Linked DNA regions of Homo sapiens: region 1 is linked to region 2. The links come from fine-mapping of genetic effects on gene expression. A gene starts in region 2. The other region holds a variant in brackets. All regions are shown on one strand. Distances are between the middles of the regions. Region 1 overlaps ZMAT4 (zinc finger matrin-type 4). Region 2 holds the start of GINS4 (GINS complex subunit 4).

What was found. PIP is the estimated chance that this variant, and not a neighbour inherited with it, causes the effect.
Region 1: its variant is fine-mapped to the expression of GINS4 in hippocampus (GTEx, PIP above 0.99).

The regions. Positions count from the first base shown.
Region 1 is chr8:40,750,003-40,766,067 of GRCh38, reverse strand. The region is part of intron 3 of ZMAT4 (zinc finger matrin-type 4); the gene reads left to right. Among named protein-coding and RNA genes, the nearest start is that of ZMAT4, 140 kb to the left of the region's middle. The variant C/T (reference allele first, on the strand shown) is at 8,588.
Region 2 is chr8:41,520,924-41,536,988 of GRCh38, reverse strand. It overlaps GINS4 (GINS complex subunit 4), which reads right to left and starts at 7,728. Exons shown (of 8, transcript NM_032336.3): 1 at 7,593-7,728; 2 at 6,691-6,805; 3 at 543-629. The coding sequence starts at 6,786. It overlaps GPAT4-AS1 (GPAT4 and GINS4 antisense RNA 1), which reads left to right. Exons shown (of 3, transcript NR_125824.1): 3 at 2,579-2,684. RefSeq lists a silencer at 7,753-8,182.

The sequences.
Region 1 (16,065 bases), 770 kb after region 2:
AGGAGGATACCAATTTCGTAGGCACATTCCTCTCAGAAAAACTTATTAAGCCATGGGAGAGTTGGCCTACACCAGCTTTTATGTAACCTCCGAACTCTATGGCTACTGGAATCGTGCTTCCCATTGGGAGAGTATCTATTAGCAGAAAGAATAGAATTCGTTTTTTACTTCTTGAAATTATCCAGCAATCAGATCTGAATCCTTTCATATAATAGCCATTTAGTGTCTTATGCTAATGGTCAGAGACAATGGGGTTCACAGCCACTTGACAATTAGCTTAAAGTGGCAAAAAAACAGAGATGACTGCACTCAAGCTAGTGTTGTAGTTGTACAGGCTCAAGATGGTCCTTGCCACTCTGGTCAGGTGCACAATCCCCTTTAATCAAGCTCCGGTGCTGCCAATAACCGCAAGGACAGTTTACAGTGGGAAAGATGTTTGGATTTCAGAGCAAGAAGCATCTGTTTGCATTCTTTATCAAAGTCCCCGTGGAAACCTTTTTTCTCTGCTGTTTCCTGGGTTTTGAAAAACCTTGATCTACCAATGATTTATTTATCAAATCATTTTTCTATAATTTATTGAGCATAATATAAAAGCAAACCAGTAAACAGAAAAAGCAATAAAATCGTCTTACTTTTTGAGAGTGATAGTTGATGCTTTTGTTACACTGTGTGTACATTTGTAGGTGAATATATACTTTCCGCTATGCATTTTGATCTATTGGACACAGCGTGGAAGTCACCCCCAATACTTCTCAGGGGCTTTAAGAGTGTATATTGGTAATTATATGAATCAACTTTCTTTTGTACAGGCTTATACCTAAGAATTGAGAGACTGAATATATAAAGACGTTGTCTGGAGAATAAGAAATGGTGTCTTATTTTTGGGCATTGAAGCCATTGCTGGGTCCGGGGCCAGGGATGACTGCTGTTCTGGGTGAGTGGGTGCAGTGGCTCACACCTGTAAACCCGGAACTTTGGGATGCTGGCAAGAGGAACACTTAAGGCCAGGAGTTCAAAACCAGCTTGGACAAGATAGTGAGACCCTGTGTCTACAATTTTTTTTTTTTAATTAGCCAGGCATGGTGGTACATACCTATAGACCCCGCTCCTCAGGAGGCTGAGGCTGGAGGATTGCTTGAGTTTAGGAATCAGAGGCTGCAGTGAGCTATGATTGTGCCACTGCACTCCAGTCTGGGCAACAGAGTGAGACACTGTCTCTAAAAATAATAATAATAATAATATCGAAGGTATAGATTTTTCATAAGGCCCAACTGACATAAGTCATATTTATTTAGCATTTTGTTTTCAAAGCACTTTCTGCATGTATTATTATTACTGATACTCTCTCCACTAGCACGCTGTATTCTCAGAAGGATATAATAACACTTTATTCTACTCACCTCACTTCCTACTCAGATTCTGTGCTCCCAGGGGCTGTGAGAGGTTTGCATCCCAGTGTTAACTGATTGAGAAGAGCATTCACATCTGCCCTGAATACCCCCAGCGTATGGCTTTGTAAACAGAGAAAATGTGTTCCTGATTTCCCACACCCTGACCATGTATGAACCCTGCTCCCACCCCATTCATAGGAACTCGAAATTTACTTACAAACGCAGTGAAGGGCCTATTATACTTCTAAGGTCTATTGTTGCCATTTCTACTTCAGGCCATTTGGCTTTTGCTGTTGTTGTTTTAAACACCCAAATTCATTTCTATCTTCTGTTTTGACATTGTCAGCTGTTTAAATTTTCTCTTCACATGCTTTTATCTTTAGAATCCTTACTCGGATCTTACATTTTTTTTCCCCCTGGAAGACATTTTTCCCTTGGGGCCACAGAGTAAAATTAAGTGAGAAATAAATTGTTATGGTCAATTGCCTTAGAGAAATTTTCAGTAATCCCTCCAGCGTTAGAGACAGAAAGGACTTCAGTGTTCACGCAGTCCATTGAGAGTCTCCGTTTTTCACCCTTTTATTATCTTCAGACCCGTGGGTCAGATGCTTTGGGAAAAAATGATCTGTATGGGAAACAGCATTTTTAAGTAAAAAAGGTGATTTAGTTTTACCTGGGTTTTTTTTTTGTGTGTGTGATACTTTGATTTTTGCAAAATGTAAGTAACTGCTGACCAAAATCGCAAGTCAGTTTTAAGTAAACAGTATTTTTATGTGGGGTTAAGATAATTCCCTCTAAACATAGAGAAGCTTGGCATTTGGTTAGTGTCATCAGTGTTACTACTCTTAATATACATGCTTTCCTTCAGATCTGAAATATTCTGCATAGCTTGAGAAGCTGAGTGTCACTTTTACAAGTCCCTAAACATCCTAGAGTCTAGATGGGGAAGAATCAATCTAATCTAAACCCTTCTTATTACAAAGGTGAAAATAAAGAAGTACCATGACTTGACCAAAGTGGTCAGACCTGAGATTAAAATCCTGCTTCCCTAAATGCTATTCCTAGTCTTTTCCCACATATCTTGAAGTGGTGTCTTATTTTTTGGCCTTGTAACTGTTATGGGGTCTGGAGCCAGGGAGCATTGTTGTTCTGGGCAGGGTAAAAATAGTGGCTGGCTTTTATCATGCACTTTCCACACGTGTTCTAAATGCTTTATATATATGAGTGATCTTTCATCTTCACAAGCCCTGGAGAAGGCAGGAGTTGTCACTGTCCCCACTTAGCAGAGAAGCAAACAGAGAGATTAAGTAATTGACTGTGATCACCCAGCTAGTACTTGACAGAGACATGGCTGGAAAAGTAGAAAACAAAAGGAGATCTACTCTGATACTGTAAACTAGCTCCACAACATCCCATCGTAAGACGATAACGAGCATCTGCAAAGCGCTGGGGGACATGGACACCTTCCCCAACACAGATCAGGATCTAGTGGGGAAGTCAGATGTGTAGACCCTGTATCTCAATGCAGCATGATAAGTGCTACCATAGACATATGCCTGGGCATGGTGAAGGGTCCCTGGCCTCTCCTGATACGATGGGGCTAGATAAGTTTTCCTGGGGAAAGTGACACTGAACCACTTCTTAAAGGATAGATTTGGGTGAGCTAAATAAAAAAGAGTGGGAAAAGGCCCTTTTGAGTGTGCAGTCAGCATTGGTAATGTCTTCAGGGAAACAAACTCAGAGGCATTTCTTGAGTATGAAGTTCTAGCACTGTTGACTACCTAAGGCTGCTGTAACAAATTGCCACAAACTGGGTGGCTTCAACAAAGAGCATTTATTCTCTGGCAGTTCTGGTGGCTATAAGTGTGAAATTGAGGCATGGGCAGGGCCTTCCTCTGGAAAGTCTGACTGAGAACCTCTTCCTTGCCTATCTCATAGATGCTGGTGGTTGCTGGATTTGAAACTGTACCACAAAAACCTCTGCCTCTTCTATCTTTTCATTTTTGTTTTTTTTATTTTTAGAGATGGGGTCTTGCTCTGTTTCCCAGGCTGGAATGCAGTGGCATGATTATAGCTCATTGCAGCCTCGAACTCCCAGGCTCAAGGGATCCTCCAGACTTAGCCTCCCAAGTAGGTGGGATTGCAGGCATGCACCACCATACCTGGCTAATTTAAAAAAAAAAATTTGTAGAGATGGGATCTTGCTGTTTCCCTGGTTGGTCTTGAACTCCTGGCTTTGAGTGATCCTCCCACCTCAGCTTCTCAAAGTGTTGGTATTACAGGCATGAACCACCACACCTGGCCTTCTTCTCTGTGTGTATCTCTGTGTGTTCTCTCTCCTTCTTATAAGGACACCAATAACTGGATTTATGGCCCAATATAATCCAACATGACATCTTCTTAACTACGTACATGTGCAAGACCCCATTTCCAAATAACATTGCATGTCCTAGGTTGATATGAATTTGGAGGGGGACATTATTCACTTAGTACTATGGCAGAGGCAGGAGTCGAGGTTGGGATGGTGGGACATTGTGCGTAACGTTGACATTTACTTTGTCAAATGTCCCCTTGTCTTCTCAAGTGGTCTGCTGTTGACTTCGTGGTCAGTTCTCAAAGACAGATGCGTTTACCAACAAGTGCTGTGTGTTTGGCTTCCAGCTTAAATAGTACCCAGCACTGAGAGTTAGAAGTGGAGATTCTATCCCCAGTTCTGCTACGCATGAGTTTCACAACTTTGCTTTAGACTTTCTAAAACTCAATTACCATGGTTATAATCAAGCAATATAATTGCTGTCCTGACTGTCTCTCAGAGTTGTTAAGGGACTCAAGATAAAGTCATGTTTGTGAAGGTGCATGATAAATTGTAAAGTGTGTGTCAAGTATTCTGTCGTGGAATTTTTTCTTCTTTCTTGTGGAGTATCTCCTGATCTATGGGCCCTTTCATAATTAATCAATCAGCCAATTTCTACTGAGCTTCTACTATGTACAGAGTACAGAGCCGCATGCTGTAAAGGACACAGAAAAAAATGAAATATGGAGTTCATCAGGTAGTTGGAGAGAAAAGTCATACAGAAAGCAATTTAAAAACAATCAAGGGCTAATTTGTGTGGCCCTGCCTCTAATGAAGTTGATGATCAGAGAAGTGATTTTTTGATGGAAGCTGGAGTGCTTAACAATGGCTTCCCCAAGGCAAAAGCTTTAGAAGGCTCTGGAAGATTTGTACCATGACGGGGCGCCTGTTCTTGGTGGAGCTGCCTGCTGTGCAAAGCCTTAGAGGGAACAATGAGGAAGGCCTGTGGGAGACCTGGTTAGGCAGAGACTTGCAGGGGCCCTTCAAACTGACTTTCATTCAATATTTATTTAGAAAGCCCCTTTGAAAAATTAGCAATACATATGTTGTTTTATATTCAAAATAAGGAATCAAGTCCATAACCCAGTTATAACATTAAAACTTGTTTGGAATTGGATCTCTTGTGGATAGCTATAGTTACACACATTTGGCCAAGATAGAGATTATGTTTGTGGATATAATTATGAAGTACTATATGACATATGTTTAAAATTTCCCTTTATTGCCTTTTGTTATAGCAAATTATCCCCCCCTGCCCCACTGCCCCAGCCCACCCTCACCTTTCTTTCTTCCTTCTTTTCTCTTCTTCAGCTTCCTTTTGTTAATTTCCGAACTAGCAATTTCTTGGGAGGACAATTAAAGGTTTATAATGTAGGTAACACAAATCCTTCATTTTTAGGAAACCACATGCAGTATCGGGTTCAGGATTGTAGCTGACCATAGCTGTCAATTCTACGTTGGCCAAGCCCCAGGTTGGTGATAAAATCTGCTGTAGCTCTGTGCAACTTGCAGGTGCATGGTGCAAAAGCACGAGAGAGAGAGAGAGAGAAAGAGAGAGAGACCGCGACAGAGAGAGAGAGAGCATGACAGAGAGAGAGAGAGAGAGAGAGAGAGAGACTGTGACAGAGAGAGAGAGAGAGAGATCTTTGCGGTCAGAATGTTGCCTCGACCATGAAAAAAGTCAGCTTTGCCAGAAGCAAGAACCATTCAGAGTTAGTGAGTGGAAACTTGGCTTAACAGGAATTTTGTTTTTTCTGACTTCTTTCATTGCAGATTTTGTACTGTTTTTAGTTAGGTGACCCAAGATGCTGCTTAGCTCTCCTACCCCCAATCTGGTTCTGGTGAGGGTGCTGCGAAGCAGGGCTAGAGCCTGGGGTATGTTTGGGGAGGGATGGAGACTGGGTTGGCCAGTAGGAGGGGCTCGGTTCCTGAGGGCAGGTGAAAGATTTGCAGAAGCAAGTGTATGCCAACTTACAGATGTTTCCAAAGGGTCAAATAAAAGAAAAAAATCAGCACTTAGGTAAGGACTGATCATATATGGAAGTCTATTGCAATAGGGGGAATGTCCCAACCACTTGGAGAAGTAAAGCACGGCTAGAAGGAGCTGGGTGTTGGAGAGTCAAGGGAGTAGGTGCTGTGAGTGAGCAACTAAACAGGAACGTTTCTCTGCATATGTAGTCAGTCGATTATAGGGAAAGGCTGTTGGCAGTAGTGGTGTCTTGTCTGCATTCTTGCATAAGCTCTCAGTGCTCGCACAAGCATAAGAGTGGGACAAAGTTCAGGGACCGTGGGAAAGCAGAGAAGACTGACCAAAGTTTGGTCAGGCTGCGTTAGTGGGCATTTTGTCCAGATTTGTTAGTGGGGACAGATAGTTCAGTTAATTATTTATGAGCTGAAGAATGGGAATTGGGAGAGTTTGTGTCTGGCCTTGTCAATAGGTAAATAAGATGATCATCCACACATCTTATCTATGTCTTTTGGGGAAAGGTTGGTCTTTGCAGCAAGCTCTTTCCTGGAACAGAAAAGGATGGGAGATTTAAAAGAAACTATTCCTGTTTTCCAGAAGCAGGAGCTCATGTTTTTCCAGGACTTCAGCTGAAGTTCAACATTGTCATGTGGGTGGGGCGCGACCAAGACAGTCGACCCTTGTTTTAGTTGGCCTGTGCTGCTATAACAAAATCCCATAGCCTAGGTGGCTTAAACGTCAGAAAGGTAATTCTCACAGTTCTGGGGAGTCTGAGATCAAGTTGTCAGCCGATTCAGTTTCTGGCGAGGGTTCTCATCCTGCTTTGCAGATGAACATCTTATGGCAGTTCAGGTGGCATATGGGATAGCAAGAGAGATCACCTCTTTGTGTCTCTTTTTGTGAGGGTACTAATCCCATTCATGAGGGCTCCACTCCCATGAGCTAGTCATCTCTCAAAGGTAATACTATCTTATGACCTTTACATATGATCGCACTGGGGATTAGGTCTTCAATATAGGAATTTAGCAACCATAGATTCTAGACTGGCTTTTCCCTTTTTTTTTTTTTTTTTTTTTGAGATGGAGTCTCTCTCTGTTGCCTAGGCTGGCGTGCAGTGGCCCAGCCTCGGCTCACTGCAACCTCCACCTCCCAGGTTCAAGTGATTCTCCTGCCTCAGCCTCCTGAGTATCTGGGATTACAGGCCCGCACCTCCATGCCCTGCCAATTTTTGTAATTTTAGTAGAGACGGGGTTTGATGATGTTGGTCAGGCTGGTCTCGAACTCCTGACCTCATGATCTGCCCACCTCAGCCTCCAAAGGGCTAGGATTACAGGCGTGATCCACTGCACCTGGCCTAGACTGGCTTTTCTCAGATACCATTCCAAAGGGCTGATGTAATACAATTATGATTGCAATAGCGTTATGCATGTTTCTTTTCTCCAGTAGGTGATTAGAAAGCATTACTGATTCTCTGTTTCATTTTCTTTGAATGTCTAGTGTCCTTTCCGTTGTTCTGTCTTTAACCAGTAGAGACAGTTCTCTCTGTGGCATTAGCAAGTCTGTGTCTCTGCTTTGCTGCACGCTTATGCTAGGGAGCACTGTCACCATCCAACTCTGAAGGGTCAAAATCCTATTTATTCCCAAGATCCATTTTTCTTTGCTTCCTTCTAGAGACCACCAGGTATTCAGCTTTTCTTCTTCTTTCTATTTAGTATTTTTTTCATAATAAGTAATTTTTTTGTGTGCTGTTCACACAAATGGAAAAGACCACAGACAGAATTTTAAATTAGACATTGTCATTTACAGAAAATCTATATTCAGGGAAGGAATGGTTAAGGGTCCTTAATAACTAAAATCTGGTGATGACCGTGCCATAGTTCTTTAATACGTCAACACAGGAATTGTTGCTCTGTTTATTTTTTGAAAGGGATAATGATAACATACATTTGAAAAGAGTCATGGTGACTAATGAAAAAACCTTACAGATTGTCATTTCACTGAGTCTACCAACTTTCTCTTACGACTGATGTGGAGTGGTGACTGTGGAGGGACTGGCTTCATGACAAGAAGAGAAAGGGAATACAATGAAGTCTTCCTGCCATTTCTGTCCTTCAGTTGTTCAGAGGAGTATTAGGGTTCTCTAGAGGGACAGAACTAATAGGATAGATGTATATATAAACAGGAGCTTATTAAGGAATATTGACTCACACGATCACAAGGTGAGATCCAACAATAGGCCGCCTGCAAGCTGAGGAAAAAAGAAGCCAGTCCAAGTCCCGAGACCTCAAAAGTAGAGAAGCCAACAGTGCAGCCTTCAGTCTGTGGTCGAAGGTCCAGGAGTCCCAAAGCTGAAGAACTTGGAGTCTGATGTTCTAGGGCAGGAAGGATCCAGCATGGGAGAAAGACTAGGCTGGGAGACTCAGCCAGTCTAGTCTTCTCATTTTCTTTTGTCTGCTTTTATTCTGGCCACACTGGCAGCCTTGATTAGATGGTGCCCACCCAGACTGAGGGTGGGTCTGCCTCTCCCAGTCCACTGACTCAAATGTTAACCTCCTTTGGCAACACCTCACAGACACACCCAGGAACAATACTTTGCATCCTTCAATCCAATCAAGTTGACACCCAATATTAACCATCGCAAGAGGTAATTCATTGCCCTTCCAAGGATATTTGATGGATACATAAATAAAGATATTATTTTCCTATATTTTACATAAAGTATGGTACAGTATATGTACCATTTTACCTTTTCTTTTTTCTTTTTTTTTTTTTGAGATGGGGTCTTGCTCTGTTGCCCAGCCTGGAGTGCAGTGGCACAATCTTGGCTTACTGCAACCTCCGCCCTCCAGGTTCCAGTGATTCTCCTGCCTCAGCCTC[C/T]CAAGTAGTTGGGACTACAGGCACGTGCCATCATGCCCGGCTAATTTTTTGTATTTTTACACATCTTGGAGGTCATTTGACATGAGGTAAAGGGTGTTTGTGTGCATGCGTGTGTGTATGTGTGTACAGTGGATGCTCATTATTTGTGGATTCCATATGAGCAGATTCGCCTACTCATTGAACTTTACTTGTAACCTCCCATCAGTACTGGCACACATTTGTAGTCATTCACAGCCATGGGCAGGGTAGTGAAAAGTTTGAGTCACCCAAAGTGCATGTTTCCAGCTGAGGTCAAACCAAGTAAGACTCTGCCTTCCTGCTTCGGCTTCCATACTATGAACAAGTGTCCTTCTCACGGTCTGTTTGGAGCCATGCTTGTTACCTTTCTGTGCTTTTTGTTGTCGATTTCACTGTTTAAAATGGCCTCCAAACGCAACACTGAAGTGCTGCCCTGCGTTCCAAAACACGAGAGGGCTGTAAGGTGCCTCAGGGAGAAAAGACATGCATTAAATAAGCTTCCTTCAGGCTGAGTGACAGTGCTGAGTGACAGTGCTTCAGGCTGAGTGACATTGCTTCACGGCTAATGCTGGCCGTGAGCTCAGTGCTAACAGATCACCAATGTATATCAAATAATGTGTCTTTTAACAGAAACGTACGTAAAATGAGGTTACATATTGATCAGTTGAAAATGTTATAGACAGAGGCTCACAGGAAGCTAATCTTGTATTTAAGAGCAATGGTTCAGTATTTGCTAATTCAGTGTTCATAGCAACTTTATAGAACAGAACTACCACAAATAATAAGAATCCAGTACACACACACACACACACACACACACACACACACACACACACACTTACAAACATAAACCCGAACAGATGCTGAGTATTTCATTGTAAAGATATCCCATAATTTATGTAGTCCCCTACTTACGGATATTTGGGTTTTTCCTATCACTTGCTATTACAAAGAATGCCATGATGAATAAATGTGTGTATCTCTTTTTCAGGTATACAAGTGTGTATATATATATATATATATATATATATATATAAAAGAACATTTCCTAGACATGAAATTGCTGGGTGAAAACATGTGTGCATTTATAATTTTGATAAGTGTTGCTGTGTTTCTCCATGGAAGCTGTATTCGTCTACACTGCCCGGGGCTGCCAGCACCTACAGTCTCCTGGAGCACCTTTCTCCACAAGCCTGGTGGCAGAATGGAACACAGACTTTGGACTTTTCTTTGTGTTTTTTAAGACAAATACACAGAACTTGATGTTTGAGAGTCTGCTCTGTATGCCAGAGGCATGAGAATAACTTTAAGCATCCAGATGCTTTTTATCTTCCCCCACTCAAAGTACCCCTGGTGGGAGGAGAGTGAAGCAATAATGTTTAAGGTCCCAAGGAGAGGATCAATGTGTATGGGTTCCCTTCATTTGGGTCTCTTCAGGGTAATTTGCAACTTCTATAGTCCAGTTAGGACAGGCCTGCTGTTCCCACCTGGAAGACCTGAAGGGCAATTAGAAAATCAATAGATGCGATTTAGTATTTATGTGCCACACTGGCTCAAGTCAGAAGTCAGAAAATAACCACTGGCCAAATTCAGCCACTGCCTGTTTTTGTGTGGTCTGTAAGCTAGGAATTATTTTAAAAATTTTTAATGTTTGAAAAAAATCAAAAGAAGAAGGGTATATCATGGCTCATAAAAATTACATGAAATTCAGGCTGGGTGCAGTGGTTCGCACCCTTAATCCCAGCATTTTGGGAGGCCAAGGCGGGCAGATTGCTTGAGTCCAGGTGTTTGAGACCAGAGTGGACAACATGGAGAAACCCTGTCTCTACAAAAAATACAAAAATTAGCCGGGCATGGTGGTGCATGCCTGTAGTCCCAGCTTCCCGGGAGGCTGAGGTGGGAGAATTGCTTGAACCCGGGAGGCGGAGGTTGCAGTGAGCCGAGATCGGGCCATTGCACTCCAGCCTGGGTGACAGAGTGGGACCCTGTCTCAAAAAAAATTACAGGAAATTCAAATATTAATATTCATAAATAGAAAATCTTATTGGAACACAGCCACACACATCCCTTTACATGTTATCCACAGCTGCTTTCATGCCACAAGGGGAGAATTGAGTAGTTGCAACAGGGATGGTATATCCCAGAAGGCCTAAGATATTTACTGTGACCCTTTACAGAAGATGTTTGCTGCCCATTGAAACTCTAAAGGTGCCTTTCTTCTCTTCCTTATCAGACTTTCAGTTTGTGGCTGTTAGAGTTTCACCTAAGAGAGAAGCATCATTTCAAACCCCCGAGTTTCCATTTGCATTGTTGCTATTTGGCTTTGTTTCTTTTCAGAGAAAAGTTTGAAATTTGTGAACATATGATGTGGAAACAATGAGGACAGCTTATTTCTGTTTCTTTCTTCTTTTCTTTTCTCTCTCTTTCCTTCTTTTCTTTCTTTTCCTTCTTTCAAGATAGGGTCACTCTCTGTTGCTCAGGCTGGATGGAATGCAATAGCATAATCATAGCTCATGATCTCAAGTGATCCTCCCACCTGAGTCTCCAAATTACGCAGACCACAGGCATGCATCACGGCAACCAGCTAATTTTTAAATTTTTAAAAATTTTTTAGTTGATACAAGGTCTCACTATGTTGCCCAGGCTGGTCTCGAACCTCTGGCCTCAAACGATTCTTCCCGTCTTGGCCTCTCAAAGTGCTAGGATTACAGGCAACAGTCAGCCCACCTGGTCGTTTTATGCCATCTGTCCTCCAAGCCAAATTATGGTAACCCAAATTCCTGAGTCTTCTAGGACAGCCCAGATTTAATATGTTCTTTCTTGTCAATACAAATCACCTCACCAAACTATACCCCCAGGTGGAATAAAAATTTTTTGTTATACAGGTACAAATACACAAATAATAATTTAAATGAAAAAAAATAGTAGAACTCGTCATTGGTGGAAACATATGGCATATTGCTTCAGCTACACATGATTTTCTCGGCCTGAGACCAATTCTCTAGCTTGGGACTCTGCTTCTGAAACTCATTTATACTGAGATATATATCATAGTTATAACTTATGCCTAGAATCTGATACAGAGGAGAGGAAAGAAGGATTCATTGGAAAGACAGCTGTGGAAATAATTGTTTTCCCTGGTGGAGATAGTGCCATGGGTCTTTGATCATTGGAAAGCCTGGTAGCCCCCTCCTGTACTCTAACTCCACTGTTTTATTGTTAACATATCATTGCATATACTCTCTTGTTTGTTTGCATGCCATTTGTTAAACCTTTTTTCTTTTTTTTTTTTGAGATGGAGTCTTGCTCTGTTGCCAGGCTGGAGTGCAGTGGCGTGATCTCGGCGCACTGCAGCCTCTGCCTCCCGGGTTCAATCAATTCTCCTTCCTCAGCCTCCCGAGTAGCTGAGACTACAGGCGTGTGCCACCATGCCCAGCTAATTTTTGTATTTTTAGTAGAGATGGAGTTTCACCATGTTGGCCAGGATGGTCTCTATCTCTGCCCACCTCGGTCTCCCAAAACACTGGGATTACAAGCGTGAGCCACTGTGCCCAGCCTAAACCTATTTAATGTGTCAGGCCCTATGCTAAATACTTGATAGAAATTTCATGTGAACTTTATAAATATGAGTAAGAATCTTTGTCACCTCTGGTGAAAAACATGTGGAAGGAGCTTAAGTCAAGAATCTTATCCAAAGTTACACACCTTGTAGGTGATACAGCCAAGATTCAAACTCAATACTGTTTGGCTCTAGAACCTGAGGTCTGTATTATCCTGTGATCTTCAATCATTTATTTTTTCATTCAGAAAATATTAATTGCTTGCCTACCAAGAGTCAGGCAGTGTGCTGATTGCTGGGAATTTAACAGTGAATGAAACAGATGCAGTTTCTGTTTACAGAACTTACAAGGATAGTGGTGGGGGGGAATGGATGTTAATTTTTAAAAATCGTACAAATATTTAAATAAAGAAACATAGTGGAAAGCTTAGAATAAAGAACTCCACAAGGTCTTTGGAATCAGAGAAGGGCTTTCCTGAATACGTGATGCTTGAGCTGTGTCTGGAAGTTGATTAGTGATTAACTAAGCACAGAGATATATGTTTTGCAGTGATGGTGGGGAAGAGTGTGGTGTGATAATTCCAGGTAGAGTAAGTAGGATGTGCAAAGGCCCTAAGGTCTGAGAGAACATGGTCTTTGGAAGGAGTAAGAAGGAAGTCATAAAAAAGAATGAGTTCATGTTCTTTGCAGGGAAATGGATGAAGCTGGAAACCATCATTCTCAGCAAACTAACACAGGAACAGAAAAACAAACACTGCATGTTCTCACTCGTAATTGGGAGTTGAACAATGAGAACACATGGACACAGGGAGGGGAAAGTCACACACCACACACCGGGGCCTGTTGGGGGGTGGGGGGCAAGGGGAGGGAGAGCATTAGGACAAATACCTAATGCATACAGGGCTTAAAACCTAGATGACGGGTTGATAGGTGCAGCAAACCACTATGGCACATTTATACCTATGTAACAAACCTGCACGTTCTGCATATGTATCCCAGAACTTAAAGTAAAATTAAAAAAAAAGAAGAAGACAGCCAGCATGAGCACGGCTGGTGTCTGGAGACAGAAGCAGGTAGTGATGGGAGATGCAGAGTGGACTCAGGTAAGAAGAGCTGAGGGGAGCTGTCGAGTGTCAGCCTTGCAAGAGTCCACTGAATCAGTGTGGCTGATGGCAGAAGTGAAAAATGAGACATTGATAGATTTGGAGGATACCTGAGTAGGTAAAAATAGATGAATGGGATAATTAGTGTAAGACCAAAGGAGGTTTCCAAATGACTTCCAGGCTGAGAATTGGAACGTTGCTGTCCCGTCCCGCGGTCACAGGGATGCTGATCTTTAAGTCCATGACTGCAGAGAGTGGGAGGACCTGAGAAGCAGGGAGGATGTGAGGAAAAACCCTTTCTCCAGGTTATTCCAGGTTCTTCACGTGGAGCAGGAGTGAAGTTGCATGAAGATGCAGTTTGCTTCCAGCCAAGGGGGTAGTGGGCAGCCTGGTAGAAGGGACTGGGCAAACTCTTGTTCTCAGAGCTTCCTTTAAGCCAAGACTTTCTCCTTCTCTGATGACAAGAGGAGTAGGGGGAAGGAGGAGAAGTCAGGGCAAGCCCAGTGGCAGAGGGACACAGGGACACAGGCTAGAGGCACCCTGCAATTGTGCTGATGCCCAAAGCCAGGAGAGGGGGCTGGGTTCCAGATAGGTGCCAAGTGAGAGGGCACCCTGGTGTCACAAAGTAGGGCAGCAGAAGGTTGTCTGGATGGCTTCCTGGGGGAATGAGGAAGTCAGCAGTGATCTGATATGTGCTTCCAGTAGGAGGACTGGGGTTACTTAAACAGCTGGTAGAACTCAGGTGTGGTCTTGGGATCTCAGTCTCAGTAACTCCTGGAGGGTCCACCCTGTTCTTCCTTAAATTTAAAAGGCAGAGATGGGAAGACCCAGAGATCACAGCGTTAGACTTTAGGAGGACAGGGGTCTTCCCTTATACATCTTTGCATCCTCAGCATTTTGCACAGGGGGGGTTGATGTTCATATTTTCATAATACTGCCCTATTCTTTTTCTTTGAAACAATTATAATTTTAAAAATTATTTTAATTAAAACCTGTCATTTGTATAGAAAGTCTTACAGAGCAACAGAATTGCATCTGGTTTTCATTATACACCTATCGAAGTCATCCTCTTCTTCTGTAACCGCCCTCTTACTGGCTGTCTCTCTTGGTCATCGCTGCCCTAAGCTTGACCTTATTTCACATCAGGCCCGTTAGTTCAGGGGTTGATGTTATAGTTTGGTTATTTGCCCCACCCAGATCTCAGGTTGAAATGTAATTCCCAGTGTCGGAAGTGGGACCTGGTGGGAGGCGATCGGATCATGGGGATGGATTTCTTGTGGGTGGTTTAGAATGGTTTATCTAATTCATGGTTTATCATGAGGACTGCACCATCCCCTTGGTGCAGTCCTCATGAGAGTGAGTGAGTTCTTATGATATCTGATTGTTAAGTGTGTGGCACCTACTCCCCACATCTCTTGCTCCCACTCCTGCCATGTGAGACACCTACTTCCCCTTCTGCCATGATTGGAAGCTTCCCGAGGCCTCACCAGAAGCAGATGCTGGCACCATGCTTCCTGTAAAGCCTGTAGAACCGTGAGCCAGTTAAATCTGTTTTCTTATAAATTACCCAGTCTCAGGTATTTATTTATAGCAATGCAAGAGTGGCTTAATAAAGTTGATTTGCAGCTAGCAGAGGTCAATGTCCTTCCCAGATTCAATCCATATTTCAGCCATAAGAGAGAAGGAGTGTGTTCCTCAGGAAGTTCTTATCTGGAAGACATTATGGCTGTGCCTCAGGGGTGAAAGGATTGATCATACATATTGCATGACCCTTTGTCATGGAAGATTATACACCACATCCTTTAGCAGTGTCTTTCCTTTGACACACTAAATGGGCCCTTGAAAATGAGCCCAAATCTATTTTTGTTTAGGGTAGTTTGAATAAAAGAATTCTGGTGGCAACAGACTGCAAAAGAGAGTGATTATTTTATATCACAATCGCTCTCTAACTTCAGTTCTGCAAGGTTAATTTCCAATGCTGGTGTTTGTTTTTGGGGGGCCCCACTGGGGTGGCCAGGAATCTCCAGACATGGTCTGATGGCCCACCTGGGTGTGGCAGCTGGGTTCTTCAGTATTCTCTTTCCTTTCTGCTCTGTTTCTTTTTTTCAGGTGTCTGATTCTCCAGTATATCTTTCCTGACCCCATTTTTCCCCTGATAGATGGATTTCTTTGGTTAACATGCTAGAGTCCCACAAAACATAAGTTTATTTTTCTCATGAATCTCAACTCTTTCCTGAAAATTTGTATCATTCGCTTTTAATAAAATTCCTTTCCTTCTATGTCTGGGTCCATTTGTCTTCATCTCTTGCTGGGATACAGGGAGGGATCTGGGAGGATCTCGCCTCTTTGCCTTCCTTTGTCCTACATAGCACCGTGAGTCTTCACTCTCATATGGCTCTCATAAATCACGCTTGCTGTCTTCCTATTAGGTGACCCCCTGTGACCATTCTGCTTCTCTTTAGTAACCTCTGGGCATTCCCCATGCCTAAAATATTATTCTTGCAGAACGAAGAAGTCTGTTTCCTTCACTACATTCTGGCTTGTGACTGTTTGGCTTTGTTTAGGTTCATGTATTAAGAATATATATATATATTTTTTCTTTTTGCCTTAGAATCAGCCAAGGGTTGTGACATTAAAATACAAGATACATTTATAACTTCATGTGACCTGGATTTGGTGCAGGTCATGCTGAGACAATGATGAATGTCTCCTGATCAACACCAGAAAACCTTGCAGAAAATACATTTAAAAATAGGAGTGATGTACTGAGTTCTACTAATTTGCAGTAAATTGTCTTT
Region 2 (16,065 bases):
CAGCCAGAGGCTTCCAAAAGAACTCCAATCTGATTGTAAGGGAGATAGTACAGCACACAGACGAAACTTCCATTGGGTCTAAAAAGCAGTATTAAAACACCAGCTGAGAAACTGAAATATCCACATTTTACAGCTTCTCTGAAGTTGACAATGATTTATGCTCAGATCATCTAGGCCAGGGACCACAAACTCAAATGTTTGCAGGGGCCAGGTGGGGAGGCTACAAGAGAAGGGTGGGTAGTCAGGGGCTGTGGGGAGCAGGGAGTACATGGATGGACAGCTCTCATGGGACTGCTCTGGTCAACTGTTCTCATGCAGAAATGCAGGATTTTAGACTTTTCATGGGAAGCCAATATCCAGATATTTACAGGCACTCTCAAGATTGATAAACATAGATAACTAATTCAATGTTGTTTTAAAGAACTGGACTGTGAGTGGAGCCAAACAAAACAGATTTGCTACCAGACCACAAGCTCTCAGTGTGCTGACCAAATGCTTTTACCTTTCTCCTCCTTTGTCAACCCAAGACAAGCGACTCTTACCATGTGCTCCAGCTGTTCCATGACACATTCTACAATCTCAGGCTTGCTCTCCAGCAGCTCAGGGGCAAACTTTTCATTCATCCAGGCCTAAAAGACAAATGCCAGAAAAAGCAAGCATCACCCACCACAGAGCTAAACAACCCAGTGAGTCAGCCCAAGTCCAACGAAAACCAGGGATGGCGCAGGCAAGAAAACTGTCTGCCCACCAACTGGAAACATTGAAGGTGTTTTGAAGACAAACTACGTTTAGCGATTGCTTTCTCGTGTCTTGTTTTAGTTGGGAGGCTGTGTTCACAACCTTCTATTCAACTGACACTCATACAAACCCTTGCTTACTTCAGTTAGTGTGACGCTTGGTGCTGAGAGTGACACCACCTGGTGTTCAAATAGTGCCTTTGCCAGGCAGCCCGGGCACACTGTTCCCCCAGGCAGCGCCACCCCATGTCTATTTAGAGAGAAAGCAATAACCCACCAATCCACACAGCTCTTCATTCCTGAAGCTCAGAGCACTTCACAAATATTTTTCATTCATCATCATCATATCTCAGAGAAAATGGATATAGTTATCCTCATCTGATTGAAAAAATACAGATTGAGTAATTTACTAATGGCCCCAAAGTATACAGGATCATAATAGAAACAGGCGCTCATCTATTATGGAGTTTTGGAGCCAGAGGTTAAAGCTCTAATTTATGACTCAGGCCCAGCTGTTTGGTTCATTTTAGAGACTTCCAAGGCTTAGAGAACTGAAATATCCCTAAGTGACTGAGGAAAGCTACACTTATCTTTCAATTACAGGAAATGTAGTTTTAGCATAGCTCAGAATTATATGCTGACCAGGCTCAACTTATTTTTTTCTGACGTCCTTGAGTGTCTGCTTCTCCCCATGATCACCGTCAAGACACATTACCAAATGCTGGGTATGGCTACAGTCATAGGCATTTGTGCAGAGCCTGAGCATCTGTAACAGTCCTGCAGACTGAAACAAACAAACAAAAAAAACCTGCATAATGCATGGGAAAACATCATATTTTCTGGAGGGCTTATTAGGAGCAGCATTTCTTTTTGATTGATTTTTATTAAATATTGAATAATTTTTATTTATTTTTGAGGCACAGTCTCACTCTGTTGCCCAGGCTGGAAAGCAGAGGCATGATCCCAGCTCACTGCAGCCTCTGCCTCTCGGGTTCAAGTGATTCTCCTGCCTCAGCCTTCCGAGTAGCTGGAATTACAGGCATGTGCCACTATGCCCAGCTAATTTTTGTATTTTTATTAGAGACAGGGTTTCACCGTATTCGTCAGGCTGGTCTTGAACTCCTGACCTCAAGTGATCCACCTGCCTTGGCCTCTCAAAGTGCTGGGGTTAGAGGCGTGAGCCACCGAGCCCAGCCAAATACTGAATAATTTTTAAAACTACAAGAACAAGCCGGGTGCAGTGGCTCACGCCTGTAATCCCAGCACTTTGGGAGGCCGAGGCAGGCGGATCACGAGGTCAGGAGATCAAACCATCCTGGCTAACATGGTGAAACTCCGTCTCCACTAAAAATACAAAAAATTAGCCGGGCGTGGCACGCCTGTAGTCCCAGCTACTTGGGAGGCTGAGGCAGAACTGCTTGAACCTGGGAGGCAGAGGTTGCAGTGAGCCAAGATTGCACCACTGCCCTCCAGCCAGGGCAACAGAGCAAGACTCCATCTCAAAAAAAAAAAAGACCCTGTGTGTCCCTCCCTCCTCAGAGGTAATCATTAGCTTGAATTTCATGTTGAATTTTCTTTATGGTCTCACTACATTTGTTCATATCTCTGTAGAACACCTCTCAACCTGTTCATGACAGGATATTCAAAGAAAATGATAGTGCTTGTCTGGTACACTGGGGTAGTATTGGGGACCACTTCATTTACATTATGAAATTATGACAATAAAGTATAAAACATTAGGTGGAAGTTTATATTAGTATAAAACTTTCATATAAATCTTTCCAAAATTTTTACTGAGAAACTTGTATCTAAATCCAATCTTTTTTTTTTTTTTAACTCAGGTTTTATGCTTGAAATGGCTACATCTGGTTTCTGGTCACACAGTGGCATGATAATGGCTCACTGCATTCTTGACCTCCAAGGCTTAAGTGATCCTCCTGCCTCAGCCTCCAGAGTAGCTGGGACTAAAGGTACATACCACAAAGCCTGGCTAATTTTTAAATTTTTTTTAATAAAGATGGGGTTTTACCATGTTGCCTACAGTGGTCTTCGAAATCCTGGCCTCATGACATCCCCCTGCATTAGCCTCCAGAAGTGTTGGGATTACAGGCTTGAACCACTGTGCCTGGCCCCTGATCAAAATTCTAAATGCCAATCTGTTCATTATTGCTACGGGCTGAAGTGTGTCCGCCCCTCAAAAATCTACCTAACTTCCAGGACCTCAGACCGTGACTGTATTTGGAGATGGAGGTCTTTAAAGAAGTGATTAAGTTAAAATGAGGTCATTAGGATGGCCCCTAATCCAGTAAGACTGGTGCCCTGATAAGGGGTAATTTTAACACAGACACACACGAGAGGGAAGACCATGCAAGGACACAGGGAGAATATGGTCACCTACAAACCCAAGACAGAGGACTCGGAAGAAGACAACTATGCTGGCACTTTGACCTCAGCCTCTAGAATTAAGAAAATAAATTTCTATTTAAGCCACCCAGTCTTTGGGACTTCGCTCTGTGGCCCTAGCAAACTAAAACAATCACTAAAATGAGCAAATCTGCACTACAGGTAACAACTTTTAAATCACTTTTTACAGGCATTAAAGGGTATCCTATATATGCTCCTGGAGCTGTTCTCATCAGCAGCCCTGTCAGGCTGTCCCTTTGGCTGTGCCACACAGCATAAGAGACAGGATCTGGCTGTGGCAGCCGTGCAGGTGGCGGGTCACTTCCTTGGCTGCACTCAGGGCACTGCACTAGAGCATCAGGCATGAGATGTTACTGCAGCTTACCCACCAGCAAGCTGCAGCTGTGCTGTCAGAACCCCCGCCGCCCCATCCTCTAGCTGCCTTTCAAGGACCCCGATGATGCTCACTTGAAAAAGTAACCAGCCTGGGGCTCCAGCTGTCCTGGAAGGTGCAGGGGTCCACACAGAGGCATCTGTGGCATAGCAGTGTGCCACATCACCCAAGGGTGGCGGCTCTGCCTTGAACAATAATTTTGCAAGTTTGAACTTTACATAAAGTGTTTCTTTGGCAGCTCATATTTTATGGTTGTTATTGTTCTACATTAAGTTCCTGTTATTCATGCTGTTTCAGGAGTTATTTTACTCATTTTCACTGCTGTTTTATTCCCACTGTGTATGGTATATTTTCTCAATGCTATTTGTTTACGGTTGTCTAGGTTATTTTAATTTTTAACTATTGCAAGCAATGTGTGAACATACTGTGGATGTCTCCTAGAGTACATGCGGAAGTTTTCACTAGGTATGTACCTGGGGGTGGAACTACTGGGCCGCAGGTATGTGCACCTTCATCTTTACTAGACAATAACAAATTATTTTCCAAAGCGATTATACCTATTTATATCCCACGGCAGTATATAAGTGTGCAAATTGCTCTTCATTTTTTTTTTTTTTTTTTTGAGATGGAGTCTTGCTCTGTTGCCCAGGCTGGAGTGCAGTGGCATGATCTCGGCTCTCTGCAATCTCCACCTCCTGGGTTCAAGAGATTCTCCTGCCTCAACCTCCTGAGTAGCTGGGATTACAGGCATGCCAACAAGCCTGGCTAATTTTTGTATTTTTGGTAGAGACGGGGTTTCGCCATGTTGGCCAGGATGGTCTTGAACTCCTGACTTCAGGTGATCCGCCCCTCTCGGTCTCCCAAAGTGCTGGGATTACAGGTGTGAGCCACCGCACCCGGCCTGCCCTATATTCTTAATTTTCTCTTTTTGGGATAAGATCTCGCTATGATCCTCAGGATGGTCTCAAACTCCTGGGTTCAAATGAACCTCCCACTTGGGCTTCCTGAGTTGCTAGAACTACAGGCATGAGCCACTGCGCTCAGCTGCTCTACATTCTTGCCATACTTTATATTGCTCACGTTTTTCAGTTCTTCCAATCTGATAGATATGAGATGATATCTCATGATTTTCATTTTCCTGATTACTAAAAAGGTTGAACATCTTTTTCATATGCTTATTGGTCATCCTGTTTTCTTCTTCTCTGAGGTATCAGTCTGTACTGGGCAGTATGAAAGAGCTGTTTATGTACTGTGGATAATCATCTTGTGTCAGCTACATATTAGTATTTTGCAAATATCTTCTCCCAGCCTGGTGGCCTGTCTTTTCACTCTAATCCAGAAGTACAAACAGGCTGGGCACAGAGGCTCATGCCTGTAATCCCAGCACTTTGGGAGGCTAAGGCAGGCAGATCACAAGGTCAGGAGTTCAAGACCAGCCTGGCCAACACAGCGAAACCCAATATGGTGAAACCCCATCTCTACTAAAAATACAAAAAGTAGCCAGGCGTGGTGGTGCACACCTGTAGGCCCAGCTACTCAGGAGGCTGATGCAGGAGAATCGCTTGAACCTGGGAGGTGGAGGCTGCAAGTGAACCAAGATCACACCACTGCACTCCAGGAATGTATCCCTTTTTTCCTTTATGCTATGTGCCTTTTGATTTTTGTTTAATGAACCCTTTCCTAACGAACCAGGAATTCTTAATGCTGTTCCACAAACTAGGTCTGTGGGTGGATTTCAGGGGATCTCTGATCCCCTGGAAGTCATATGCAAAATTCTGCATGGGTGCATGTGTGCGTTATTGTGGGATGAAAGACCACAGTTTCTACCAGTTTCTCAAAAAGGTCTGTGATATAAAAACAGATTAAGAATCACTGCTAAATAGTAAGGATTATCATGTAAGGTATAATTTAAAAATCATTTTAGTTCCGTTTTGTCATTCGTGATATCATGTATGGCAGGGAAGAATGAAGAATACTAAAGTAGCAAACATGAGAGAGCTCTGGAAAGGGGCAGTTAGAGCAAGAGGATAAGGATACTTACTATGAACAGCTCACATCTAGTGAGTGCTTATCATGTGTCAGATAGCATGCTGAGTGCTTTACACAATTACCACATTTAATCAAAAACTCCAGGACATAGACACTATTATCATCTCAATTTTATTTTATTATTTTTTTGAGACGGAGTTTCACTCTTGTTGCCCAGGCTGGAGTGCAATGGTGGGTAGGATCTTGGCTCACCACAACCTCTGCCTCCCAGGTTCAGGTGATCCTCCGGCCTTAGCCTCCCGAGTAGCTGGGATTACAGGCATGCGCCACCACATCCGGCTAATTTTTGTTTTTTAGTAGAGACGGGATTTTACCATGTTGGTAAGGCTGGTCTCGAACTCCTGGACCTCAGGTGATCCGCCCACCTCAGCCTCCCAAAGTGCTGGCATTACAGGCTTGAGCCACCGTGCCCGGCCCTATTGTCTCAATTTTATAGGCAAGCAACGGCTTGAGACAAACTCCCTAACTTGCTCAAGATCACATAACAGAGGAGTGTCACAGACAGATTTAAATCCAGATAGTCTGAACTCCTGTTACCAGAGCATCATGAGATATAAGTGTAAAGAACACAGTTACTGGCACATGGGAAATATGCAGTAAGTCATAGCTATTACAACTTAAAGGAGAAATATTTCAGAAAGGATTTTAGATAAGCAGTGGACATATGGAGAGCAGACGACTCAAGAAAAAACATGTGAGAAAAAGGAAAAATATGACCAGTTTTCCCTTACAGGCATTTCAGCATTTTCTTGCTAAACAGGCATTCTCCAGGGAAACAGCAGATGTTCAAGGGACTAAGGTAAAGAAGTTCAGGGACCTCTACAGTCCCTGAAAATATCACGTGGATCCTTGCTCTGTGAACTGTTCACTGAATGTGCCCAAAGCTGTCCCTTACTGACCCCACTTGGGGATGCTGTGTTTGATATGATGAGGTCTCTAACAGAGGATGTCCTTCTTGCTTCCCGTTTCCATGTAGATGGTAAGATCCAGTCCCTGTTCTAAAGTAAGCCCCAAATTCCGTTTCCTCATCTTGTGATCCCTGATATTCACAGTTGAACTAAATAAAAAGGCTGACTGGAGCAAAGGGATTCGATCTGGGATGCTTACCTGCTCCAATCTTTCAATGAGCTCTGCAGGAGTTAGGACCACTTCCTCACTACCCCCATCAGAGTCCTGTCCCAGGAAATCCACTTCTTCGGTCATCTTCTCTGAAACCAGGAACCTAATGAGAGGGAAAGAACCAATACTCTGCAATGCGTTTTCTAATTATCTGCAAGAACAGACATCTATCTGGAGAAAGGAAAGGTTTATTGAGGTTTCCTGGGGTTGTAGAGGCCCTTTAGCAAGTGGTGAGAGAACGCAGGGACTCTAGTTTTCCAGTGTCTGCCTCTTCCTCCAAGGCTTAGGTCAGGTATCCGTTTCTCAAACAAGCCTCCCCCTTACTTCTGTCCACCAAGAGCTGAGCACCCATCACACCATACAATCACTATTCATTTCTTTGACTTCCCAGTAGAGGTCTTGTTCCTCAGGGACGGGGTTCGTTTTAGTTCAAATACGAATCGCGCCTCTGCTCAGTGCCTGGCACTAAGCACTGGGGACGCAATGACGTGGGAAGCCCCTGCGCTCAGCACAGCGCTTGACTCCTAGCAAGCACTTAACATTATTAGGAGCTGGCCGGGCTCACGCCTGTAATCCCAGCACTTTGGGAAGCCGAGGCAGGAAGATACCTTGAGCCCAGGAGTTCGAGACCAGCCTGGGCAACATAGGGAGATCCTGTCTCTATAAAAACAAAAATTGTTAGGAAGATTAATCAATGCTAATTTCCCAGAGCCACAAGGGCCGGCGACATTAGACCAGTCGGCGATCCCAAAGGCCTAAGGAGGTGGATGGCGGGGACAAAGAAAGTCCCTGGGGTCGCAAGGAAACTGCGAACATCCCCCTCCCCTCCTCCCTCTCAGTGCCACCCACACAGGCCTGCCCTAGCCACAGAGGTCCCATTCGACGCTCACTCGGGGACCTGGGAGACAGCGAGGCACTCCACAGCAGCCGGCGGTAAGGACGGGGCGTTCGTGGGGACGCAGTCGGGGCACCAGGAAGCGGGAAGACAGAGGAACAAACTGCTCAAGGACTTGCCGGGACCAACTCAACCCTGCAACTTCTCAGCTCCCGCGCTACTCTCGCAAAGTTTCCGCCCAGGCACGACGTCATCGCGCAAGGGCGACGCTGACCAATCAAGGCCCGGGGGGAAGAGCGGGGCGGTCTCCTTGGGCCCGCCCACCCGGCGGGCGGGGACTGTCTTCGCGGCGGCCTGCAGTCCCAGCAACCCAAGGACTTGAGGCGGCGGGAGGCTGGTCCGGGTTGGCCCCGCCCACCTGGGGGCCGGCCGCTCCGCTGTGCGGTCCGGGTTGCACTACCCAAGAGCGTCGGGAGGGGGCGCCCGCCACCGCGGCCAAGGGGAGCGGCGGTGTCCGCCCCGGGGGGTCCCACCCAGAAGTATGCTGTTGAAAGCAGGCCGCTGCAGCCTCCTGGGCCGTCTCCACCCACAGCTCTCGTGGCTCTTTGGGTTCCTCCGTCTTTGCGGGGTTTCACCTGTGGTCAGTGTGGTCATTGCCTTCAGAATCTCCAGTATATTCCTTTTCATCTTTCTTGAGACAGGGTCTCGTTCTGGTGCCCAGGCTGGAGTGCAGTGGCACCACCACAGCTCACTGCAACCTCCGCCTCCCGGGCTCCAGCGATCCTCCCACCTCAGCCTCCGGAGTAGCTGGGACCACAGGCCAGCGCCACCACGCCCAGTTATTTTTTAATTAAAAAAAAAAAAAAAAAGAACTGTGGCGGGGTTGGGGGTGGGGAGGTTCTCCCTATGATGGCCAGGCTGGTCTCGAACTCAAGGATCCAAGCAATCCTCCCACCTCGGCCTCACAAAGTGGGTACTGGTTCTTGAAGCCTGGGATCGGACGACCAGCAGAAGCATCGCCTGGGAATCCGTGAAAATGCAGGTTCTCAGGCCCCACCCTGGCCCACCGAATCAGAAACTGGGGGTATTTCACCAGACCCAGGCCCTCCCGGTGACCCTGACACAGCTGAGGTTTGAGAATCACTGCTTTGGGGCCGGGCGCGGTGGCTCACGCCTGTAATCCCAGCACTTTGGGAGGCCGAGGTGGGCGGATCACGAGGTCAGGAGATCGAGACCATCCTGGCTAACATGGTGAAACCCCGTCTCTACTAAAAATACAAAAAAATTAGCCGGGCGTGGTGGCGGGCGCCTGTAGTCCCAGCTACTCGGGAGGCTGAGGCGGGAGAATGGCGTGAACCCGGGAGGCGGAGCCTGCAGTGAGCCAAGATGGCGTCACTGCACTCCAGCCTGGGAGACAGAGCCAGACTCCATCTCAAAAAAAAGAAAAAAAAAGAAAAAAGAAAAGAGAATCACTGCTTTGGGGCAATGCTTTCAACTCACCTTCTGGAGGGGAAAAGCACAAAAACCCATGTCTGTATATGTATATATTTTTTCCATCTTTGTGTGATCCAGTTTTTCTTCTCTGAGTTGCTGATTCTTTTCTCTTTGCTGTCCTTTGTTTTCTGTGCAAAGCGTTGCTTCTGGCTTCCCTAAAAGTATCTCTTCTCCATCAATCTGAGGGCTCTTTGCAAAGCTGCCCTATGATGTCATATTGATTGACTAGTAAAATGATTGGCTAATATAGTATGATCGTACCTGCCTGATTACAATCCTGTTATGAAAATGACAATAGAATAAGCCGAGTGAGAGAGTAGGCATCTTTACAAAGCGCTGTGTAAGCTGGGGCATATCAGCACGGGATTCCCAAAAGGAAGGGACATTTGAGCTGTGTCTTATGAAATGAATTTTGTGAGTGGCAAATAGGTGGTTATTTCAAGGTCTGTTTCAACGGTTTGGTAATCCAGTGGTTTTTGGTTGTGGCAGAGTGTGTTTCCCAAACATAGCTGCTCTAATATGGATCTCACCCCACATACCCTTCTTACCATGTGACATTGACACTCCTCCATCAAGAGGTGGGGTCTATGTTCTCACCTTCTATTTATTTATTTAGAGACAGGGCCTCACTCTGTCGCGCAGCCTGGAGTGCAGTGGGGCGGTCACGGCTCATTGCACCCTTGACCTTCCTGGGCTCAGGTGATCCTCCCACTTCAGCCCCCATGAGTAGCTGGGACTACAGGTGTGTACCATGCCTGGCTAATTTTTTGTATTTTTGGTAGAGGTGGGGTTTCATCATGTTGCTCAGGCTGGTCTTGAACTCGGGCTCAAGTGATCTGCTCACCTCAGCCTCCCAAAGTGCTGGGATTACAGGTGTGAGCCACAGCGCCTGGCCCTGTTCTTGCCTTTTACATCAGGAAAGAGTTTTTTAACTGCTTTGACCAAGAGAATTTGGCAGAAGTGATGCTGCTTGGCTTCTGGGACTAAGTCATAAAAGGCAATGTGGCTTCCACTTGGCTCTTTTTTCTGGAGCCCCATCTCTTGAGAGCTGTGGGCTGACGTGGAAGAAGTCTGGCTAGCCTGCAGTCGATGTGCAAGAGAGTCGATATGAAGATGCCAGGCAGAGATGGGGAGCCTTACTGGAGGAACCCCAGAACCCCAGTTGTTCCATTCTCCAGATGTCTGGGTTGAATGAGCCTTCAGGTGATTCTAGTGCTGAGGCTTCAAACCGTCCCAGCTAAGATGAAGGGAGCAGAGATGAGCTTCTCTGCTGAGCCCTGCCCAAATCGCAGATTTGTGAGCAAAATAAGTATTGTTGTTGTTTTAGGCCCTAAGTTTTGGAGTGGTTTGTTATGTAGCATTAGCTGACTGGAACAGTGGTCTTTGAGCACAATCGCATTCTTCCATAATTCTCATTACCAAATAGCTTTTCAATGATGTTTATTAATATTCCTTAATTGTTACATATTTGAGTCCAAGCATAGATAACGTCTCTACACAAGTGCCGATTATGTAGTTTATTGATTTAAAAACTTCCCTTCTCTGGGTCCAACCACCTTCTCCAATCTCCCCCGCTCCTCCACTGGAGAGCTAGAGCCCAGCTTCTGCTTCCTTACTTAATAGAGGTGTGACCTTAAACGAGTCACTTTGGATTTCAGTTGCACCACCTTTTTTGCTGTTGTTGTTAGATGACGTTTCGCTGTTGTCCCTCAGGCTGAAGTCCAATGGTGCGATCTTGGTGCACTGCAACCTCTGCCTCCTGGGTTCAAGTGCTTCTCCTGCCTCAGCCTCCTGAGTAGCTGGGATTATAGGCATGTGCCACCGCGCTTGGCTAATTTTTGTATTTTTAGTAGAGACGGGGTTTCACCATGTTGGCCAGGCTGATCTTGAACTCTTGACCTCAAGTGATCTGCCCGCCTCGGCCTCCCAAAGTGCTAGGATTACAGGAGGGGGCCACCACACCTGGCCATCAGTCACACCACCTTTTTTTTTTTTTTTTTTTTTTTTTTTTTTTGTGAGATGGAGTCTCACTCTATCACCCAGGCTGAAGTGCAATGGTGTGATCGCAGCTCACTGCAACCTCTGCCTTCCAGGTTCAAACGATTCTCCCACCTCAGCCTCCCGAGTAGCTGGGACTACAGGTGCACGCCATCGCGCCTGGCTAATTTTTGTATTTTAGTAGAGATGGGGTTTTGCTATGGTTGCCAGGCTAGTCTCGAACTCCTGACCTCAAGTGATCCACCTGTCTCAGCCTCCCAAATTGCTGGGATTACAGGAGTGATCCAACCGCGCCTGGCTAATCACACCACCTTTTACACAAAATTAATATGTGTCTGCCTGAAGACAGAGGGACAGACCAAAAAATTGAGGGACCCGTTTCACTTCTAAGATCTTTGATTACAACTAATATTCATTAGACAAAAACACTTTTAGAGGAAATGAGTTGGCAGAAAAATATTTCTGCTGTGTAAAGAAGGGTTATTAAAAGAAATGCCAAAGCAACACACAAACTTTTGGTGTTGATCGTTTGGCACTGTAAAGTTCAGGAAGGTGGGAGAAAAGAGGTCTTCAATTACATTATATAGAATGAAGAGAAAAATCAGGAACACCTGGTTGATGTGCACCCACTGTCAAGAAGTGTTTTAGAAATAATAAGATAGCCATATAAATGGAATGCAATTCATTAAAATGATCACAGATAAAAGGTGATTACATAGATTATTATATTAGGAGGATGAAGTTTGTGGATAGAATTTGCAGGCAAGCTTAGATGATTTAAATTGCAAGATGAACATACTAACATGAATTCAGACAAGTAAAACATGAAGTTACCTCGAAAGAGAAGGAAAAAGCTACTGCCCAAAGTGGAAGAGGAAGATACAGAAAATAGGATCCTATACAACTGAAGAAAGTGACAAGCCACAGCAATATTCAGATATTCTCAGTGAAGATGTTAATGGAAATTATAGACACAGCAAATAGAAACAGCCAAAATATTTGTGGACAGCCATACGTTATTATTATTATTACTATTTTTTGAGACAGAGTCTCACTCTGTCGCCCAGGCTAGAGTACAGTGGCGTGATCTCGGTTCACTGCCAGCTCCGCCTCCTGGGTTTACGTCATTCTCCTGCCTCAGCCTCCCGAGTAGCTGGGACTACAGGCGCCTGCCACCACGCCCGATAATTTTTTGTATTTTTAGTAGAGACGGGGTTTCACCATGTTAGCCAGGATGGTCTGGATCTCCTGACCTTGTGATCCGCTCGCCTCGGCCTCCCAAAGTGCTGGGATTACAGGCGTGAGCCACTGCACCTGGCCCAGTGGTACATTATTTTTATTTTTTGAGACAGAGTCTCGCTCTGTTGCCCAGGCTGGAGTGCAGTGGCATGATCTTGGTTCACTGCAACCTCTGCCTCCCAGGTTCAAGCGATTCTCTTGCCTTGGCCTCCAGAGTAGCTGAGATTACAGGCATGTGCCTCCATGCCCGGCTAATTTTTGTGTTTTTAGTAGAGATGGGGTTTCCCCATGTTGGACAGGCTGGTCTTGAACTCCTGACCTCAGGTGATCCGCCCACCTCAGTCTTCCAAAGTGCTAGGATTATAGGCATTGCACCTGGCCAAAAAGATACATTATTAATGAGAACAAATTTAATGTTTTAATCACCAAGGAAAAACAACAGTAAATACTGTATATCTATACAGAATTGTGAGCTTTCTGGAGAAAGATGCTTTCAGAATACAAGTAATGGCATTATTATTGTTCTCATATCAGTGCCCTTGCTTGTTTGGTCAGCAGCTGTTTCTCAGGGGTCCCTTTTTCTGAATTCCATCACAATCTTGGTCTCACTGCCCTGGAAACCAAAGAATTAAGATTTGGGAGTGTTTTAGTTAAGTTGAGTTTAACTCCCGGTTTTTCTGAATGCATGAAGATTGGCACTACAGACAGCCATGTAAGAGGACAGCTTGCATTTTTTTTTTTTTTTGAGACGGAGTCTTGCTCTGTTGCCAGGCTGGAGTGCAGTGGCATGATCTCGGCTCACTGCAATCTCCGCCTCCTGGGTTCAAGCGATTCTCGTGCCTCAGCCTCCCGAGTAGCTGGGGCTACAGGGGTGTGCCACCATGCCTGGCTAATTTTTGTATTTTTAGTAGAGACAGGGTTTCACCATGTTGGCCAGGATGGTCTCGATCTCCTGACATGATGATCCACCCGCCTTGGGCTCCCAAAGAGCTTTAAGGAAGGCAGAAAAGTGTGCTTACGCTGTTTTCTCTTAGGCTCATAAGGAAAGCTATTGGCTGGTGAACTTATACGTATTTTTCTGGCCAATGATAACACCCAATGCCAGCTGCATGGCCAGGATGCTGGAGAACTCAGGAAGCCGGGCAAGGCTTGGGTCTCCCTTACAAATGGAAAATCTGGGCAATTTATGATATTCCTAATTCCTTTGCTCTCCTCAGACCCTAGGTCCTCTGAAACTCTGTAAGGAGATATAAGAACTATCTGCCCCTTTGCTTGTTGTAGAATATACAATAATCATAAAAAATTTTTAAAAATTAAATATATCTTATGAAACACTGTGGCCAACATAGCATGTAGCTGGTTGAGTAAGATTATTTTCCTAATGCTTTTCTGAATATGTCAAGCAAAGAGAAAGGTGACCTTTCCATAAAGAAATTCATGTGCCTTTATATCATGGGCATCTTTGATGAGAAGCTTATGTGCCCAAGTGTTGGGCAAGTCTTATTTATTTATTTATTTATTTGTGATGGAGCCTCACTCTGTTGCCCATGTTGGACTGCAGTGGCATGATCTCGGCTCACTGCAACCTCTGTCGCCCGGGTTCAAGTGATTCTCCTGCCTCAGCCTCCTGAGTAGCTGGGATTACAGGTGCCTGCCACTGCGCCCCGCTAACTTGTATATTTTTAGTAGAGACGGGGTTTCTTGGTCAGGCTGGACTTGAACTCCTGACCTTGTGATCCACCTGCCTCAGCCTCCTAAAGTGCTGGGATTACAGGCATGAGCCACTGTGCCCAGCCTAAGGCTTCATATTTATTAAAGTCTATATAGTTTAGCTGAGAGATCTTGAGGGACTTGTCCTAAGGTCTAAATAAAAGCCAGGCCAAATTCAATCTCTCTTTCTCTCTGGCTGGAGTGCAGTGGGACAGTCATGGCTCACTGCAGCCTCAAACTCCTGGGCTCAAGCAATCCTCCCACCTTGGCCTCCCAAGTAGCTGGGACCACAGGTGTGTACCACCGTGCCTGGCTAATTTTTTTTTTTTTTTTTGTGGAGACGGGGGTCTCACTATGTTGCCCAGGCTGGTCTTGAAGTCCTGGCCTCAAGCGATCCTCCTGCCTCAGCCTCCTAAAGTGTTTGGGGTTACAGACATGAACCTCTGCACCCGGCCCAAACTCAGTATTTCTAAATGCTTGCACCTTAGGGCAATGCGTGCTCTCTCTCTCTCTCTTTTCCTATAGTGATGGGAAAAGGTCTGATTATAGTCAAAGTAAAGGGTAAAAGGTAGCCTTGTTCAAGAATGTGCCCCGTATCAAAATTTCATTTATTGTCTTGAATTTTAATGTCTTTCTTTTCTTTGTGTTAATGAATCATAGACATGGGCACCATTTTGATAACTTTTTAAATTAATTTATTTTATTTTTCGAGATAAGGTCTTGCTCTGTCACTCAGGCTGGAGGGCAGTGGTGTGATCTTGGCTCACTGCAGCCTCCACCTCTTGGGTTCAAGCGATTCTTGTGTCTCAGCCTCCCCTATAGCTGGGATTACAGGTGTGTGCCACCATGCCTGGGTAATTTTTGTATTTTTAGTAGAGACAGAGTTTTGCCATGTTGGCCAGGTTGGTCTTGAACTCCTGACACCAAGTGATCTGCTCCCCTCAGCCTCCAAAAGTGCTGGGATTACAGGCATGAACCACTGTACCCGGCCCGTTTTGTGAAATTTAGGCTAACAGTTATTGAAATAATTGTTTTCTGTGGGAGAACTCTTAGAATAAAATTCATTCATCTATATATGTTGACCCTTGAACAACTTGGATTTGAACCGCTGGGATTCACTTATGTTGGGTTTTTTTTCAAGTAAGTTACACCAGTGTGCTTGCCTCCTTTTCCACCTCCTCCACCTCATCTGCCTCTGCCACCCATGAGACAGCAAGACCAACCCCTCCTTCCTTCTTTTTACAATTTTTATTTATTTTTTATTAGTTTTTGTACAGATGAGGTCTCCCTAGGTTGCCCACGTTGGTCTCAGACTCCTGGTCTCAAGCAATCCTCCCGCCCAGGCCCTGCAAATTGCTGGGATTACAAGCGTGAGCCACCGCGCTCGGCCCCCTCATTCCTTCTTATGAAGACCTTTATGATGCTCCACTTCCACTTCATGAATAGTAAATATATTTTCTCTACCTTAGATTCTTAGTAACATACTCATTTCTCTAGCTTACTTTATTGTAAGAATACAGTATGTAACACATATAACGTTAAAATGTGTTAATTGACTGTTTATGCTATGGGTAAGGGTTCCAGTCAACAGTAGGCTATTAGTAGTTAAGTTTTTGGGGAGTCAAAATTTGTACGTGGCTGGGTGCAGTGGCCCACACCTGTAATTCCAGCACTTTGGGAGGCTGAGGCAGGCGGATCACTTGAGGTCAGGAGTTTCAGACCAGCCTGGCCAACATGGTGAAACCCTGTCACTACTAAAAATACAAAAATTAGCTGGGTGTGGTGGCACGTACTTGTAATCCCAGCTACTCAGGAGGCTGAGGTGGGAGGATCGCTTGAACCCGGGAGGCAGAGGTCGCAATGAGTCGTGCCACTGCACTTTAACCTGGGATACAGGGGGAGACTCCACCTCAAGAAAAAGAAAAAAACAAAAGTTGTACGAAGCTGGGCATGGTGGCTCACACCTGTAATCCTGGTGCTTTGGGAGGCCAACGTAGGAGGATTGCTTGAAACCAGGAGTTCGAGACTAGCCTGTGCAACATAGTAAGACCCTGTCTCTACAAAAACGAAAAGATTGCTTGAGCCCA